Linked DNA regions of Homo sapiens: all the other regions are linked to region 4. Evidence: fine-mapped expression QTL. A gene starts in region 4. Each other region holds a variant in brackets. All regions are shown on one strand. Distances are from middle to middle.

The links. PIP is the estimated chance that this variant, and not a neighbour inherited with it, causes the effect.
Region 1: its variant is fine-mapped to the expression of NDUFC2 in neutrophils (BLUEPRINT, PIP 0.95).
Region 2: its variant is fine-mapped to the expression of NDUFC2 in whole blood (TOPMed, PIP above 0.99).
Region 3: its variant is fine-mapped to the expression of NDUFC2 in whole blood (TOPMed, PIP above 0.99).

The regions. Positions count from the first base shown.
Region 1 is chr11:78,034,495-78,037,179 of GRCh38, forward strand. The region is part of intron 2 of NDUFC2-KCTD14 (NDUFC2-KCTD14 readthrough); the gene reads right to left. It also overlaps a transcript of KCTD14 not described here. Among named protein-coding and RNA genes, the nearest start is that of KCTD14, 13 kb to the left of the region's middle. RefSeq lists a silencer at 2,549-2,685. The variant C/CAAA (reference allele first, on the strand shown) is at 1,350.
Region 2 is chr11:77,953,112-77,955,796 of GRCh38, forward strand. The region is part of intron 8 of INTS4 (integrator complex subunit 4); the gene reads right to left. Among named protein-coding and RNA genes, the nearest start is that of INTS4, 40 kb to the right of the region's middle. The variant C/G (reference allele first, on the strand shown) is at 1,334.
Region 3 is chr11:78,122,086-78,124,770 of GRCh38, forward strand. ALG8 (ALG8 alpha-1,3-glucosyltransferase) reads right to left here. Exons shown (of 13, transcript NM_024079.5): 3 at 1,936-2,129. Among named protein-coding and RNA genes, the nearest start is that of ALG8, 16 kb to the right of the region's middle. The variant C/T (reference allele first, on the strand shown) is at 1,027.
Region 4 is chr11:78,078,429-78,081,113 of GRCh38, forward strand. NDUFC2 (NADH:ubiquinone oxidoreductase subunit C2) reads right to left here and starts at 1,434. Exons shown (of 3, transcript NM_004549.6): 1 at 1,151-1,434. The coding sequence starts at 1,316. NDUFC2-KCTD14 (NDUFC2-KCTD14 readthrough) reads right to left here and starts at 1,434. Exons shown (of 3, transcript NM_001203262.2): 1 at 1,151-1,434. The coding sequence starts at 1,316. RefSeq lists an enhancer at 1,154-1,213 and a silencer at 1,417-1,606.

The DNA of each region.
Region 1 (2,685 bases), 44 kb before region 4:
TGTTTTTCACCCAAACACTCTGTATGGGTGTTTCTTTCTTTCTTTCTTTCTTTCAAGTCATGTGTGGAGGACAGATTGTGCGACCTGGGTTCAAGTCCTGGCCTTGACATTAACTACATGGTCTTGTACAAATCTCGTCTTTTTGCTGGGCTAAGTAATCTTTCAGGTCCCTTCAGTGCAGAGGTGGGAACGGACAGCCCACGTGTTTTCAAGACAGTCTGAGTCATCCCCAAACAGACTATAGCCAAGCAGGGGACCCTGCTCACCGCGGCCTCAGTGATCTCAATCCCTCTTGCCTGAGTTTATGGGCCATGAGCTCTCCGAGGTACACTGTAGTGAACATGTGTAACATTTCCACCCTGCTTTTATTCACTCTCCTTTGTAAAGAACAACGGCTTTGCTTCGGGGGCCACCCTCTTCTTTACTCTCTACCGCCACCATCTTGCCACCATATGTAGCCTGAGATTGAAGTTAACCTACAAAGGAACATAGAACTAAGAGTTGATGAGAACCTGATTGCCGGCTATCATTTGAGCACTGATGAAGCTCTGCCTAAGGCCCTACCCCTGGAGTTTCCGGTTAGGTGACCGAGGGTTTTTCTTTTTGACTTACGCCACTTTACAATGGGTATATCTGTCACTTCTGGCATTCTAAAGAGGCCAGTGGAAGTGGAGAGCATGCTGTAACTCTTCTACCTGTCTCTCCAGATCCACTCCAGCCTTTTCTACTCTGGGAGGCTGATCCTTTTGGGGTGCATCCACAGGCTTCCATGCACCCTGGCTTCCAACTGAGTTTGGCCAATGGGAGCTTAGCGGGAGATCAGAGGCAAGAGGAGGCAGAAGCCAGAATATTCCTTCCCGGGCCCTCTCCCTGTCGAGTTCCTATACATTGGCTGCATCCCTCTTCTGAAGGTCCCAGCCCGTGATAGCTGTCTCCACACAGCTATCATCTCAGTTCTGCTAACTGCCCCCTTCCTCACCCTGTTACTAACCCTCAGGGTCTGCACTATCTCTTGTTACTCTCCCCAAACCCTGCCAAAGGGACTCTTTGTAAAGAGTCGCTTTATGGGCCAGGCGCGGTGGCTCACGCCTGTAATCCTAGCACTTTGGGAGGCCGAGGCGGGTGGATCACTTGAGGTCAGGAGTTCGAAACCAGCTCAGCCATCACAGTGAAACCCTTTCTCTACTAAAAATACAAAAAATTAGCTGGCCATTGTGTTGCGCACCTGTAATCCCAACTACTTGGTAGGCTGAGGCAGGAGAATCATTTGAACGCAGGAGGCAGAGGTTGCAGTGAGCTGAGATTGTGCCACCACACTCTAGCCTGGGCAACAGAGCGAGACTCCATCT[C/CAAA]AAAAAAAAAAAAAAAAAAAAACAGTCCCTTCATGGCCGGGCACAGTGGCTCACGCCTGTAATTCCAGCACTTTGGGAGGTCAAGGGAGGCGGATCACTTGAGGTCAGGAGTTTGAGACCAGCCTGGCCAACATGGTGAAACCCCGTCTCTACTAAAATACAAAAATTAGCTGGGTGTGGTGATGGGTGCCTGTAATCCCAGCTACTTGGGAGGCTGAGGCAGGAGAATCACTTGAACCCAGGAGGAGGAGGTTGCATTGAGCAGAGATTGCACCACTGCACTCCAGCCTGCATGACAGAATGAGACTGTCTCAAAAAAAAAACAAAAGAGTCCCTTTATGAAAGTCTCCTGAAATACCCAGCTTGAGAGAGCTATCTATGTTCTGCCTGCATATCTATATGTGTTTCAAGTGTGAGTGTGAATGTGTGTGCACACATGTGCATGCATTGTGTCTATGCTGTACACTTGACAGTCTCAAACTGGGACAAGAGGGGAGCTGATTTTCACAGGTGCTCACCATGTGCCAGACTCCATGCAGGGTACTTTGTATGCACGATTGAGTTTCATCCTCACAATTCTATAAAGTGGGTATTTTTAGCCACATTTCACAAAAGATAAAACCAAGGCCCAGAGAGGTGAAGACACTCACCTAAAGTCCCACAGCTAAATAAATAGAGGAAACAGGATTCAAAACCCATATACATCTGGCTGTAAAGCCTGTGTTCTTTAGCCTCCTCCCGGCACTGCTTTCCCAAATGCCTGGCTCATTCTCATACTTTAGATCTCAGCTTAAATGTTACCTTTCCCAAGAGGCCTTCCGTGACCACTCTATTTGAAGGCTGTCATCAATGATTCTTTTTAGTAAGACATTACTTTTCCTTCAGGACATGCCTTTGTTTACTGAATGTCTGCCCCAAGCTCCATGAGGGCAGCCAGTCTCCACATCTGTGATTTTGTTCACCACTGTGATCCTGGTGCTGAGCACATGTGGCTGCTACATGCTAGGCCCCGGATAAATCGCTGCTAAGTGAAAACATGGCAAAGGAAAGGAACAGACATGTATTAATTGCCTGCCCAATGCCAGGCATTTTACACAGTTTGTCTTAGGAAGTACATGCTGTTGTCCCATTTTGCTAATGAGGAAACCAAGGCCAAAGAAGGAATATGACTTTCCCAAAGTCACGGAACCATGAGCCAGGGTTCAAAACCAGGTCCCTCTGAGCCACAGCTGTGCTCATTCCATGGTGCCCTCTGTCCCCTACTCAGGTGTCCACCACAGGATGAGAGGCAGAGGGGCCAATCAGTAAAACTCATGTGAATCATTCCTGGACAATC
Region 2 (2,685 bases), 130 kb before region 4:
CTTCACACAGGTTTCAGCAAATACTCCCATAAATACTGGTCACAGGACTAAAGCTATCACCGGATCAGTGTCCAGTACAGTCAGAAACAAAGCATTCAGCCAACAATCTCACCAAGAGTGGCAGGGCTGGGGGCACTCAAAGGGGAAGTGTCCAAAAAGAATCACAGATTTTCCTGCTGTGACACGTATACAAATTTTTATAGATACTTACACACACATATATTTATATACTATGCCCCCACCCACCCTACATAGTATAGTACTTTTTAGTTTATAAACATTTTCATAGACTGTATCTCATTTGAGCATCATGACAACACTGTCAGGTAAATATGAGAGATATTAGAACCCCACTTAACAGATGAGGAAACTGAGACTAATATCAAGTGACATATACAAGGTAACACAGATATAAAATAAGGGTATTAGGCCAACACTCTATTACAAAACAATTTTATCCCTTAAAAGTTAAACAATTTTTTTTTTTTTTGAGACAGGGTCTCGCTCTTTTGCACAGGCTGGAGTGCAATGGCACAATCTCGGCTCACTGCAACCCCTGCCTCCCAGGTTCAAGTGATCCTCCCACCTCAGCCTCCAGAATAGCTGGGACTACAGGTGTGTGTCATCACACCAGGCTAGTTTTTGTATTTTTAGTAGAGATGGGGTTTCACCATGTTGGCCAGGCTGGTCTCGAACTCCTGACCTCAAGTGATTTGCCCGCTTCGGCCTCCCAAAGTGCTGGGATTATAGGTGTGAGCCACTGCACCTCTGCCTCCCGGGTAACCTCTGCCTCCCGGGTTCAAGCGATTCTCCTGTCTCAGCTTCCCAAGTAGCTAGGACTAGAGGCGTGTGCCACCATGCCCAGCTAATTTTTGTATTTTTAGTAGAGACGGGGTTTCACCATGTTGGCCAGGATGGTCTCGATCTCTTGACCTCGTGATCCGCCCGCCTTGGCCTCCCAAAGTGCTGGGATTATAGGCGTGAGCCACAAAAGTTAAAAATTTTCAATAAATGTGCTGAGTCCTCAAAAAGAAAACAGAAAAGTACCAAGCTAAAAGATGCAAGATCAGGATCTGACCTCACTCTACAATTTTCTGTCTGTATAAGCTGGATAACTTACTTAACTCCTCAGAGCCTCAGTTTTCTCATCTAGAAAATGATAACAGCATTTTAAAAAAAAAATTTTTTTTTAATTTTTTAAAATTTTATTTTTTGAAAAATAGAGATGGGGTCTTGCTGTGTTGCCCAGGCTGGTCTTGAACTCCTGGGCTCAAATGACCTGCCCACCTCAGCCTCCTAAAGTGCTAGGATTATGGGCATGAGCCACCATGCC[C/G]CAACTGGATAATGGCATCTATCCTGCAGGGTTACTGTAAAGAGAAAATGAGAAAATATATGTAAGGGGCCTCCTTCAAATTATCTAAGATAGTGGTCCCCCACCTTTTTGGCATCCGGGTTCAGTTTCATGGAAGAAACCAGAAAGAGTGGTGAAGCAGGGTAATTTTAGGATGAAACTGTTCCACCTCAGATCATCAGGAATTAGACTCTCACAAGGAGGATGAAACCTAGATCCCGCACATGCTCAGTTCACAATAGGGTTCACACTCCTATGATAATCTAATGCAGCTGCTGATCTGACAGCAGGCAGAGCTCAGGCAGTAATACTTGCTCATCTACCACTCACCTCCTGTTGTGTGGCCTGGTTCCTAACAAGCCATGGACCAGGACTGGTCCACAGCCTGGGGGTTTGAGCCTCCTGAACTAGGACATAACAAGTGCTTAATAAATGGGAAAAACTTTTTTTTTATTGTTTTCCTTTTTCTCTAGGCTCCGGCTATCTTAATTCCTAGTAGGGTTAATAGAATTATGTTTTAAGATTCTTTCTAGTTCTAAAAGGCTATTTCTCTACAGGAGAGTGAACTATTTCTTTCTATATTAAGAAATTCTGGGGCTGGGAGTAGTGGCTTAAACCTGTAATCCCAACAATTTGGGAGGCCAAGGCAGAAGGATCACTTGAGCCTAGGAATTCAAGACCAGCCTGGGCACAAAGCAAGACCCCATGTCTACAAAAAATACAAATTAGCTAGGCAGGGTGGCACATGCCTGTAGTCCCAGCTACTCAGGAGGCTGAGGTGGAAGGATTGCTTGAGCCCGGCAGGTCAAGGCTGCAGTGAGCCGTGACTGCACTATTGCACTCCTGCCTGAGCAACAGAGGAAGACCCTGTCTCAAGAAAAGAAAAAGGAAAATAAATTCTGGGGTTTTAAATTCAGGTCACACTGCCCCATCTGTAGTTTCTCAAAATGTCTGTAAAAACTTAATGAGAAATGTGCTCATTTAAAAAAAGGATTATTGGCTGGGTGTAGTGGCTCACATCTATAATCCCAGCCTTTTTTTTTTTTTTTTGAGATGAGAGTCTCCCCCTTGTCGCCAGGCTGGAGTGCAGCAGCGTGATCTTGGCTCACTGCAACTTCTGCCTCCCAGGTTCAAGCGATTCTCCTGCCTCAGCCTCCCGAGTAGCTGGGATTACAGGCGTGCGCCACCATGCCCAGCTAATTTTTGTATTTTTAGTAGAGACGGGATTTCACCATGTTGGCCAGGATGGTCTCAATCTCCTGACCTCGTGATCCGCCTGCCTTGGCCTCCCAAAGTGCTGGAATTACAGGTGTGAGTCACCGCACCCAGCCTAT
Region 3 (2,685 bases), 44 kb after region 4:
ATGGGGATGTATTATTCTATAAAAAGACGATATTGAAAATGTGCTACATTTGAAGAGTGGCAAATTTTAACAATAAATCTAAAACAAATAATAGATGCAATTAAAGGGGGACTAGCAAAGGTATCCTCCTTTCGCCCTATGGAGCCTCAGTTCCCTCATGAATAGAGGCAGTAAACTTACAGGGTCACTGAGAAAATTAAATAAGTTAATAATCTGTATATCATGCTTGGTTCTGGGAACTGACACAGAGATTTCAATTTTTTTTTTTTTTTTTTGAGACAGGGTCTCAGTCTGTCGCCTAGGATGGAGTGCAGTGGCGTAATCACAGCTCACTGCAGCCTTGACCACCCAGGTTCAAGAGATCCTCTGCCTCAGGCTCCCAAGTAGCTGGGACAACAGTCCCCGGCAACCACAGCTGGCTAATTTTTGTATTTTTAGTAGAGGCAGGGTTTCACCATGTTATCCAGGCTGGTCTCAAACTCCTGAGCTCAAGCAATACACTAGCCTTGGCCTCCCAAAGTGCTGGGATTAAAGGCATGAGACACTATGCCTGGCCTTTCAACAATCTTTTTAACTATTCCCTCTACTTTGCAGATGGAAATGAATTCTATTTCCTCTCCCTTTGTGCTTGTATACTCTTCCCCTGGAAGCTTGAATTCAAACATTTTGAGTTAAAAAGAGTATATTAAAAATTACCTTCCCTTTCAACTCTTGCCAGGTCATAAACAGATTGAAAGGAAGGGTTTCAAACAGGATTATTCAATGAGAATGCGCAAGGGTTAAAGACATTCCCAAGGGACTCTTTACTGAGTGGGGCAAGGGTTCAGTGTAGAGGGCCTCACAAACAGAAACGATCCATTTATGACAAGGGTCACTGAATGAACACCAGTCACTGTTCTGTCACAATCACACCAGCGAGCTTAAGAGTTAGGAAAGAATGAGGTCGGTGCAGCGGCTCATGCCTGTAATCCCAGCACTTTGGGAGGCCGAGGCGGGTGGATCACGAGGTCAGGAGTTCAAGACCAG[C/T]CTGGCCAACATGGTGAAACCCTGTCTCTACTAAAAATACAAAAATTAGCCTGCCATGGTGGTGTGCACCTGTAATCCAAGCTACTTGGGAGGCTGAGGCAGGAGAACTGCTTGAACCCGAGAGGCAGTTGCAGTGAGCCGAGATCGCGCCACAATACTCTAGCCTGGGCGACAGAGCAAGATTCCATCTCAGGGAAAAAAAAGAAAAAAAAAAAAAAAAAAAAAGAAAAAAAAGAATTAGGAAAGAATGGAAACTGACATTAACTGAAACTTAGTACTTGGAAGTCACTGTGCAAGACATTCTATATATGTGTATTCAATACTTAAAATTAACTTATAAGTAAAAGTTGTAAAACATAAAAATTTAAAATATAAGCATAACTTAAAATAACAAAGAGTCTTCATGAAGGAAAGTATATGGAAACAACTAAAAGCACTCAGTGAAATTTCTTGAGTTTACTAGAATGAAAGCTCCGTAAAAGCAGACTTTGGTGGTTAGCACAATCCATACGTGTGCGCTACTGTGCATGTACTGTGTGCATACCCTAAGATAGGGTAGGTGATGGAAGCCTCTGGCGGCCTGCTGCAAGGAAGCAAAGAAAAACATATGGAGCTATTCTGGGTGGGAGAAATGGCCCTAGAACTATACTTGGGACTACTTCTTTTCACAACATTCATAATCTCTTGTTCTACCTCTGCCTTGTAACTCCACCTTATCCCCATTTCTTCCACAAGATTCAGCTAGAGTGCTTTAAACATGTAGTTTAAAGCACAATACAATTTTTCATTGTTTTAGCATTTGCTATCATATAAACTTTGTTCCTCCTAAATTGGGAGTAAGTTAATACTACTTAACACTGTACTATTTTTTCAATACCTTCCATACAAAATGACATGCTCCAGACTTACTCACGGACAGCATACACAAAGAGTACATCCATAAAGATGACGGAAAATCTCTGGAAAAGTAAGGTCCTTGAGCTGGAGTAATTCAAATTATGGACATTCAGCATTTCTTGATCAAAATATTTGGCAACATGTGACAGGATATACTCAAACCATGCAAAGAAAGGGGGGTAATCCAACGTCCACTCTGAAGTTGCCTGTGATAAAAATAGAAGATCAGACATATCCTAAATAACTGAATAAACAAAGATGGTGCAACGATTTAAAATTTTTCATTCTCTGGTCTTTAAAACAGCACAATAAGGCTGGGCGTGGTAGCTCACACCTGTAACCCCAGCACTTTGGGAGGACAAGGCAGGCAGATCGCTTGAGCCCAGGAGTTCAAGACCAGTCTGGGCAACATGGTAAAACCCTGTCTCTATTTTTAATTAAAAACAAACGAACAAAAATCACAGTGAAATGCTGTTGCACTTAAAATATGCCCTAAATTAATAGAACAATTCCTATGTAAGACTGAACAGAACACTAAAACCTGTCTTGTAAATTATTTAACATGGTCTTCAATTTCCTTAAATAGAGTCAACTACACTTAAAGGAAATTAATTTGAAACCTGGAGATGATAAACTTGGTTATGACATGGTTCTACTCATCTAAATAACAAATAATTCACTAACTTAGGTTCAAATTCTGTCTTAGAGACACAATTTCCCTATTTGTAAAATGAGGTATTATGAAGATTAAATGAGATAATA
Region 4 (2,685 bases):
GAAAGCTGTCTGTCTCTCAGTCCTGCCTGATAATCAAAGTTAACTTCAAAGACCCCTCTTCCAAAGTTCCTCTCCTCTTTTCCCTCTGGAAATCCATAGAGCTTAGCAAAGCTACTGTGGTGGTTATTATCAGAATAGTCAGTGTCTCTGATAGGAAGCCAGTGACATACTACTGGGAAGTACAGCACACTGGTTTAGAGCCTCCTATTCAAACCGTGGTCCTCAGACCAGCAGCAGCAGTGTTTGAGCGCTTGTTGTTAACATCAAGTTCCTCCCCAGACCTCATGAATCAGGATCCGCTTTTTTTTTTTTTTTGAGACAGGGTCTCACTTTGTTGCACAGGTTGGAGTGCAATGGTGCAATCTCGGCTTACTGCAACCTCTGCCTTCCAGGCTCAAACGACCCTCCTGCCTCAGCCTCCCTCAGCCTGGGACCACAGGCGTGCACCACCACGCCCGGCTAACTTTTGTATTTTTTTGTAGGGACGGGTTTTCGCCCTATTGCCCATACTGGTATCGAATTCCTGAGCTCAGGCGATCCGCCCGCCACGGCCTCCCAAGGCGCTGGGATTACAGGTGTGAGCCACCTCGCGCAGCCCAGAATCCGAATTTTAACAAGACACCTATGCTATTCGTATGCACATTAAGTTTGAGAAGCACTGGTGTCCAATATCCATTCAGAGGTCAAAAAAAAAAAAAACCAAGCTCTGCTACTTAATAGCCATATGACCTTGGGCAAGCTGCTGTTAATCTGTTAGGCTCGGTTTCCTCGTTGTGAATAATACATCCCTAAAAGTGTTTTAAGGCCGAAATGCTATCAATAATGCCCACAGTGTGAGTAGTGCATGGCATGGAGTCATGGCTCATTTGCGCACACAGCACAACACGAACTGAGGAGAGTAGTTTCGGGTCCTTCACAGACTCAGTTCCTGCTTCACTGCACCTCAGTTTCTTCAAGTGCCAAATGACACTCTGGCTCTGCTTGATTCTAAAGAGCTAATGGGGCGCGGACTCCCCGGAAAGGCGAGATGGGGCCAGCTAGGCAAAAAGGCACGGAAAAGCAGAGCACCTCAGGGGGGCCTACGGCCGGGCCAGTCTGCAGCCCTACGACCCCTTCTCCTCCCAGCCGATCCCGGCCGCGCAGCACTCACCAGCCGTCGCGATCGGCCTCCGCCGGATTAGGTTATCAATCAGGCCGGAGCAGTAGCCCAAGAAGCCGATGTAGAGGAGCCGCGGGTCGGTCAGCTTGGGCGGGGGCAGGCTCCGGGCCTCATCCGGCAGAAACCGTAAGGGTTCTGGGTTCCGCCGTGCGATCATGGTGACGCCGTTTCCACTTGAGGCCTGGTCTCAGACCACGAACTACAAGGAAAACCACGACGACCACTACCCCGGCCTAAGCGGTCAGCTTTCTCCTCCTCCTCTGCGCGCCGGACTCACGGGCACGGCGCAGCGCGGTGCAGCGCCCAAACGCTTCCCGGTACGTGTTGCTGCGGGAACCCGGCACGCGAAGTTCCGGGCTACTAAGTTTCACTTTGCTCGTCCGCCCGCGCTAATTCTCTGGTGGGAGTGGGATTCACGGGCCTGGTAACGCGGGGTCGAGGAGTACCCCAAACGAGCCAAACTGGGCGAAGACTAGGAGATACTGATTTTCTTTTCTCCCAACTTCCCCAACCAGAATTGCCTCTCCCTCCCCTGCCCCTTCTGGAAAGATTTATCTTTTCATCCAATACCCACAAATGGGCATGATGCGTAGTTTTGATAAACGTAATTAATTGAAATTCCATAAAAGCTAGTTTTCGTTTTCTGAGTTTTCAGTCGTTCATTCGCATAGACACTCCCTCCAAAGCCTAAAATTAAGGTCTGGCCAGCAACAAAAGAATTTAGAGAAGCCCAGGACTGGATCGTTTTAGTCTATTGTTGAAATTCAGATTCGGAGGCAGCACCCTAAAATGTTTCACCTCTGGGTCTTCACGTCGTTACACATGGCTGAGTGAGGAGGTGTTCCCTAAAGGTTTGAGTAATGAGGCCAGGCGCCGTCACTCACGCCTGTAATCCCATCACTTTGGGAGGCTGAAGTGAGCGGATCACTTCAGGAGTTCAAGACCAGCTTGGCCAACATGGTGAAATCCCATCTCTACGAAAAATACAAAAAATTAGCTGGGCGTGGTGGCGGGTGCCTGTAGTCCCAGCTACTGGGAAGGCTGAGGCAGCATAATCGGCTGCTCGGGAAGCTGAGGGGGGAGAATCGCTTGAACCTGGGAGGTGGAGGTTGCAGTGAGCCGAGATCGCACCATTGCATTCCAGCCTGGTCAACAAGAGCGAAACTTCGTCTCAAAAAGAAAAAAAAAAAGGTTTGAGTAATGAAAGAAGGAATTTATAATTCTGTTAAGCAATTTTCCAGTCTCTGCTGTCAGGCCTCTCAGCCGAAGCTCAACCATTGTAACCCCTGTGACTTGCACATATGCGTCCAGATGGCCTGCGGGAGCCAAGAAGTCTGGGGCAGCCAAAAACCCACAAAAGAAGTAAAACAGCCACTTCCTGCCTTAACTGATTAACAAACATTCCACCATTGTGACTGGTCCCTGCCCTACCTTAACTGATCAACCATCCTTGTGACATTCTTCTTCTGGACAATAAGTCTTATGATCTCCCCATCATGTACCTTGTGACCCCCTCCCCTGCTAAC